Linked DNA regions of Homo sapiens. The protein of the gene in region 1 purifies or fractionates together with the protein of each later gene. This does not show direct contact. Each region holds a gene or a part of one and is shown on either strand. Other genes may lie near its edges.

Region 1 (3,659 bases):
TTATTGATCACTTCTTCTGTCGTGCCAACTTAGCCTTGCAGTGGGGTGGAGGGCTAGGAAGAGACAAAGTGATGAGTGTTCATGTGTGTCTAAGTACCAGGGCATGAGAAGCGACTCTGAAGACCTCACTAATTGGCTGTTCCTTTTCTCTGTGGCCAGTGTTTGTCCAACATGATGCTGCCCAACTGTACCTCAAACTCTGGAACCTGATTAAGGACCAGATCACTGATGTGCACTTGGTAAGAACCTAGAACCAGAGCACTCGGAAGCTTAAGATGCTGCTCATTTCACTCATTCAGCTGTTGTTCCCGTAGTGTGTAGAGGAATAAAAGAGTTAATCCCCTGTAATCCCAGCACTTTGGGAGGCTGAGGCAGGCGGATCACGAGGTCAGGAGATCGAGACCATCCTGGCTAACACAGTGAAACCCTGTCTCTACTAAAAATACCAAAAAATTAGCTGGGCGTGGTGGCGGGAGCCTGTAGTCCCAGCTACTCGGGAGGCTGAGGCGGGAGAATGGCGTGAACCCGGGAAGCGGAGCTTGCAGTGAGCCGAGATCGCGCCACTGCACTCCAGCCTGGGTGACAGAGCGAGACTCTGTCTCAAAAAAAAAAAAAAAAAAAAGAAAAAAGAGTTAATCCACATAAAACACTTATCACAGTTTCATAATATTGTTACTGGTATTATTTTGCACCTTTGTGAGGAGCTTCTGTCTCTTGGCTCCACCTTCTGGCAGTTGGCCTGACCTGGCTTATGGTGGTGTTCCCATCTCACCTCTCCGCTCTCCCTCTTGCAGGTGGAGAGACTGCAGGCCCTGTATACGATCCGGGTGAAGGACTCCTTGATTTGCGTTGACTGTGCCATGGAGAGTAGCAGAAACAGCAGCATGCTCACCCTCCCACTTTCTCTTTTTGATGTGGACTCAAAGCCCCTGAAGACACTGGTAAGGGGATTCTCTTGGTATTTGCTGCCCCTGTATGTGTTAGTCCATTTTCTGTTGTTATAACTCAATATCTGAGACTAGGTAATTTATTTCTTACAGTTCTGGAGGCTGGGAAGTCAAGGTTGAGGGGCTGCACCTGGTGAGGGCCTGCTTGCTGGTGGGAACTCTCAGAGTCCTGAGGCGAGGCAGTGCAGGGCATCACATGGCGAGGGGGCTGAGCATGCTAATGTGCCAGCTCAAATCTCTCTTCCTCTTCGTATGAAGCCACCAGTCCCACTCCCAGGATAACCGATTAACCCATTAATCCATGAGTGGATTAATTCATTTATGAGGGCTGTGCCCTCATGATGCAATAACCTCCCCCCCCCCTTTTTTTTGGAGACAGAGTCTTCCTCTGTTGCCCAGACTGAAGTGCAGTGGCACAATCTCAGCTCACTGCAACCTCCGCCTCTGGTGTTAAGTGATTCTCCTGCCTCAGCCTCCCAAGTAGCTGGGATTACAGGTGCCCACCACCATGCCCAGCTAATTTCTGTATTTTTAGTAGAGATGGGGTTTCACCATGTTGGCCAGGCTGGTCTGAAACTCCTGACTTCATGATCCACCTGCCTCAGCCTCCCTGGGATTACAGGCATGAGCCACCTTGCCCTCCCCAATTATCTCTCAAAGTCCCCACCTTTCCATACAGCCACACTGGGGATTCAGTTTCAACCTGGGTTTTGGGGAGGACAAACCCTCAAACCATTACACCACACAGCACAGTGTGGCCAATTCCCCCTTGCCTCTTTGATCTATCTCTGGCTTCTGGAAAGTCACTTATTTCATTTTCATGGCACTGGCCAATTTCTCCTTTGTTTGGCAAAAATGTTTTTCCCTCCTACCTCCACTTCCCTCATACTGCTCCCTTAATAGGAGCCCCCTCCTGTTTTGTTCCTCCAGTCAGTAGGTGCCCTTTGAGATCCTGCCAAGTGGACCACACCAGGCCAGGCATTAAGGGGGATATGAGGAGAACCAGAAGAAAAGCTGAAACCCTCAGCTGCAAAGTGTGGGGAGGCTGTAACTGATACAGTTTGGGACTGTGTCCCTGCCCAAAAATCTCCTGTTCAATTGTAATCCCCAGTGTTGGAGGTAAAGCCTGGTGGAAGGACATTGGATCATGGGGGAGGGTTTCTCGTGAATGGTTTGGCACCATCCCCCGTGGTGCTGTCTTTGTGACAGTGAGCTCTCATGAGATCTGGTTGTTTAAAAGTGTGGAGCCAGGCTGGGTGTGGTAACTCACGCCCATAATCCCAGCACTTTGGGAGGCTGAGGTGGGTGGATCACCTGAGGTCAGGAGTTTGAGACCAGCCTGGCCAACATGGTAAAACCCTGTCTCTACTAAAAACATAAAAAAATTAGCTGGGCGTGGTGGCGCAGCCTGTAGTCCCAGCTACTTAGGAGGCTGAGGCAGGAGAATCGCTTGAACCCGGGAGGCGGAGATTGCGGTGAACTGAGATCGCGCCCCTGCACTCCAGCTCCCCACTTGGTCTCTTGCACCTGCTCCTCCCAGGTAAGACACCTGCTCCTCCCAGGTAAGACACCTGCTCCTGCTTGGCCTTCCGCCATGATTGGGAGCTTCCTGCGGCCTCCCTAGAAGCAGATGCTGCCATGCTTCCGGTTGGCCTGCAGAACCATGGGCCAATCAAACTTCTTTTCTTATAAATTACCCAGTCTCAGCTATTGTCTCACAGCAGTGTGAGAACAGATGAATATAGTATTCTAGGTGGGAAATACCAACGCTGCTTTTTCCCTGTTCTCTTGGGTGGGACAGGAGGACGCCCTGCACTGCTTCTTCCAGCCCAGGGAGTTATCAAGCAAAAGCAAGTGCTTCTGTGAGAACTGTGGGAAGAAGACCCGTGGGAAACAGGTACTCATTCCCTAAATCAGACTCAGCTGTCCCTCGGTGCATATGGGGGATTTGTTCCAGGACCCCTGCTTTTACCAAAATCCACACACACTCAAGTCACACCCAGTCGGCCCTGTGGAACCCACGTATAGGAAAAGTCAGTCCCTCATCTATGCGGTTGTGCATCTGGGATACTTTATTTTTGATGAGCATTTGGTTGCAGATGTGGAACTCGTGCCTATGGGGGAGGGCAGACTGTATTTATTTACAACAATTTGTGTATAAGCGGACCCATACAGTCCAAACCCGTGCTGTTCAGGGGTCATCTGTCCTTCACTAGTCTGGGGTTGCCCCCCGTGGATTTCCTGATAGAATCATCAGAGGCCCCGAGGACACCCCATGGTGGGTGAGAAAGGGAATCTGGGTCTGGCTAGTATCTGGGACGCTGTGGTTCTGATATCTGGAGCCGTGGATGTGGCTTCTCATGTCGCATCACTGAGAGGGACTGCAGGAGGGCGCCTGAGAGCAGCCGGCAGGGCGTTTCCCTCCAGGCGAGACCAGCTCCCTGGAGCAGACGCGGTGGCTCCCTGGGTCCTGGTACCTGTGCAGAGCCCTGTGCCCTTGTGCCTCTTGTGGGGGGCCACATGGTGGTAGAATAGCCAAGTTTTGCATTATTCTCAGAGGAGCTCAGCAGATTCGGCGAACAGGAGCCTTGAACTCCGTGATGTCGCCCCGCTCCCCTCTTTTTGGGAAGAACGCGTTGCTAGCCCTGACATTTCTCTGACTCTCTCATTCCAAGTAGACTTCATCTCCAGAGTGATTTTGATTTTTCAGGT
Region 2 (3,659 bases), on another chromosome or scaffold:
TAAAAGCCAAAATTCATGAATTTTAAAATATAAAACTAATAAATACATGCCATGTGTATGGCAGAGTTTCTGTCTTCAACTCTGACTTCTACCCTGTAGTCTAGTGTCCTGTATCCCACTGCAAAGTTCTTTCTTCTTGGATGTCTGGTAGGCACCTCAGATTTAACGTGCCCAGCCCCCACACACACACAAAACTTGCAGTTAGTTTTTTCCATTCTAATAAATGACATTACCATCTGTCCCCTTGCTTAAGTTAAACCTTTGGAGTCATCCCTGATTGTTCTTTCGTGTCACATGGCTAATTGATTAATTAGCAAGTTCCATGGGCTCAAATTTAAAGACATATTTAATGTAATCCGGCTGCTGTTTTCCATCTCTACTACTTCCAGCTTAGACCAAGCCAACATCTTCTCTCATCTGGACCACTGCATTAGCTTTCCAGCTGATCTCACAGCTTTCAGTCTTGCCCCACCCGCCAACACTACAGCCAAAGCAGTCCTTCAAAAATGTAAATCAGAGTATGTCTGAAGCTTGCTTGAAAACTTTCCAGTGGCTTCTCATCACACTGAGGAAAAAGTCCAAACTCCTTTCCCTGGCCAGGAAGGTCCTCCATGGCCCTACATTTCAGCCTCTGATCCCCAGCCTGATAACTCACATGCCAGAGTTATTCTTGTTGGTCCCTCTTCCTGGCACGCTCCTCCTTAGCCTTTCACATGGCTGGCCTCTCTCACATAGTCCCTCTTCATATTCTGAGACCACTTTCTGAAGTTACCTCATTTCTCGCTTCACTTGTATTTCCATGACCTTGTTTTATTTTTCATTATAGTACTATGGCTATTGAAATTATATACCTGTCTGTTCTTGCCTACTAGAATAGCATAAGGCTTCATGAGAACAAGGACTGTGTCTGTCTTGTTTCCCACTATAGCCCAGAGACATACTACATTGGACGTATATATTAAGTACTAAATAAATGTTCACAGAAAGCATGAATTTAAAAATTAAGGATAGATTATGAGAAAAGAAAAAAGTTCTAGAGCCAAGACATTGCTTTTTTTTTTTTTTTTTTTTTTTTTTTTTTTTTTTTGGGACAGAGTATTATCTCTCTGTTGCCCGGGCTGGAGTACAGTGATGCAATCGCCACTCACTGCACGCAACCTCCGCCTCCTGGGTTCAAGTGATTCTTATGCCTAAACCACCCAAATAGCTGGGATTATAGACCCACACTGCCACGCCCAGCTAATTTTTGTATTTTTAGTAGTGATGGGGTTTCGCCATGTTGGCTAGGCTGACGGTCTCAAAGTCCTGACCCCAATTGACCTGCCTGCCTCGGCCTCCCAAAGTGCTGGGATTATGGGCCTGAGCCACCACACCCGGCCAGCACTGCTTTCTAATAGAAAAAGAAACAACTTGGAAGAAATTAGAAGAAATGCAGTATGTTGAACCAAAACATAGCAAAGGATTATTAGAAGGGCAGCTGATGCTGGATAAAGGAAAAGATATTATGCATCAACCACCTCATAGTGCTGGAGCAGTAGTTTGAGGGTTGAAGGAACAGTGAGGATTTAACTAGAAATATAATCTTAGTACTCAAGACCTAGAAAAAAGAGAATGATAGTCTGCCACCAGATTGGTTTCCCTTAACTCTTTAATTTGTATCTTCAAATTCTCTCTCACCTAGCCTGGCCAACATAATGAAACCCCATCTCTACTAAAAATACAAAAATTAGCCGGGCATGGTGGCGCATGCCTGTAATCCCAGCTACGTGGGAGGCTGAGGTAGGAGAATCGCTTGAACCTGGGAGGAGGTGGTTGTAGTGAGCCAAGATCACACCACTGCACTCCAGCCTGGGTGACAGAGCGAGACTCCGTCTAAAAAAAAAAAATTCTCTCTCACTCTTTCACTGCGCACTTGAACTCTGTTCTGGCCTGTCCTGGACTGGGTAAATGACAAGTAGGCAAAAACCAGGACTTGGAGTATAGACCAGGATATGGCAAACTACAGCCACAAGCCAAATCCAGCCTGCCACCTGTTTTTGATAGCCTAAAAGCTAAGAATGGTTTTTACAGTTTTAAATCATTGGAAAGCAAAATATTTCATGATAATGTGAAAATTATGTGAACTTAAATTTTAGTGTCCATAAATAGTTTATTGGAACACACCTATCCTTTTTTGTTTACATATTATCTGTGCCTGCTCTCGTGCTACAATAGTATCATTGAGGAGCTGCGACACAGATGGTCTGTCTGACCCACAAAGCCTACAATCTTTACTATCTTGCTCTTTATAGAAAAAGTTTTCCAGCATCAGGTATACACTTGGCAAATGACTCTTCCTTTCGTATCCTTGGAGGATGATTGATGAAGGAATCTGATATAGCCAAAGATATGTAGGCCATTTTTCTTTGTGATAAAAATTATTTCTTCTCTTTTTACAGCAATTCAATTAAACCCCAGCTATATCAGGGCAATATTGAGGAGAGCAGAGTTGTATGAGAAGACGGACAAGCTAGATGAAGCCCTGGAAGACTATAAATCTATATTAGAAAAAGATCCATCAATACATCAAGCAAGAGAAGCTTGTATGGTAAAACCTAAAATTTTAAAAATATTTTTCCTTCTATTCTTTGTGTTGCTACCCAGTGAGTCCTAAATAATCCTTTCAGACACAATTAAATTCCATTTCTGTGCTTTTGAGGAGCTTATCAAGATATATGGGAGGCCAGGCGCAGTGGCTCTTGCCTGTAATCCCAGCACTTTAGGAGGCCAAGGAGGAGAGATCACTTGAGGCCAGGAGCTCGAGACCAGCCTGGCCAACACAACAAAACCCCATCTCTTCTAAAAATACAAAAAATTAGCCGGGTGTGGTCGTACACATCTGTAATCCTAGCTACTCGGGAGGCAGGAGAATTGCTTGAACCCAGAAGGCAGAGGTTGCAGTGAGCTGAGATCATGCCACTACACTGCAGCCTGGGCAACAGAGAGGATCATTGAGCCCAGGAGTTGGAGGCTGCAGTGAGCTGTGACTACATCACTGCATTCCATCATGGGCAACAGAGTAAGACTTTGTATCTTAAAAACAAACCAACAGGCTGGGTGCAGTGGCTCACGCCTGTACTCCCAGCACTTTGGGAGGCCGAGGAGGGCGGATCACCTGAGGTCGGGAGTTCGAGACCAGCCTGACCAACATGGAGAAACCCTGTCTCTACTAAAAATACAAAATTAGCTGGGTGTGGTGGCACATGCCTGTAATCCCAGCTACTCGAGAGGCTGAGGCAGGAGAATCGCTTGAACCCAGGAGGTGGAGGTTGCAGTGAGCTGAGATTGCGCCACTGCACTCCAGTCTGGGCGACAGTGTGAGACTCTGTCTTAAAAAAACAAAAAATACAAATGAATTTAAAAAAAAGTTAAAAATACAAATATAGCACTGTAAACATCTGATATGTATCCTTTCAAACTTTTTTCTGTATATATTTATTTGTTAAATTTGTATTGATGCCCTCCTTTAGTGTAGACTTTCTATTAAGAACTGGAAACAGAGCCAAACAAAACTTTTTTTTTTTTTTTTTTTTGAGAAAGGGTCTCTGACTCCCAGGCTGGAGAGCAGTGGCACAGTCATGGCATACTGCACCCTCAACCTCCCAGATTCAAGCAACCCT

What was found.
Region 2: the proteins of USP18 (region 1) and TTC1 purify together in Homo sapiens (affinity purification with a luminescence readout; one large-scale study listed by IntAct). This does not show direct contact.

The regions. Positions count from the first base shown.
Region 1 is NC_000022.11:18,167,096-18,170,754, forward strand, and holds part of USP18 (ubl carboxyl-terminal hydrolase 18), read left to right. Parts: intron 1-159; coding exon 160-239; intron 240-794; coding exon 795-941; intron 942-2,748; coding exon 2,749-2,844; intron 2,845-3,657; coding exon 3,658-3,659. UniProt on the Homo sapiens protein: Interferon-induced ISG15-specific protease that plays a crucial role for maintaining a proper balance of ISG15-conjugated proteins in cells. Regulates protein ISGylation by efficiently cleaving ISG15 conjugates linked via isopeptide bonds.
Region 2 is NC_000005.10:160,047,076-160,050,734, forward strand, and holds part of TTC1 (tetratricopeptide repeat protein 1), read left to right. Parts: intron 1-2,438; coding exon 2,439-2,587; intron 2,588-3,659.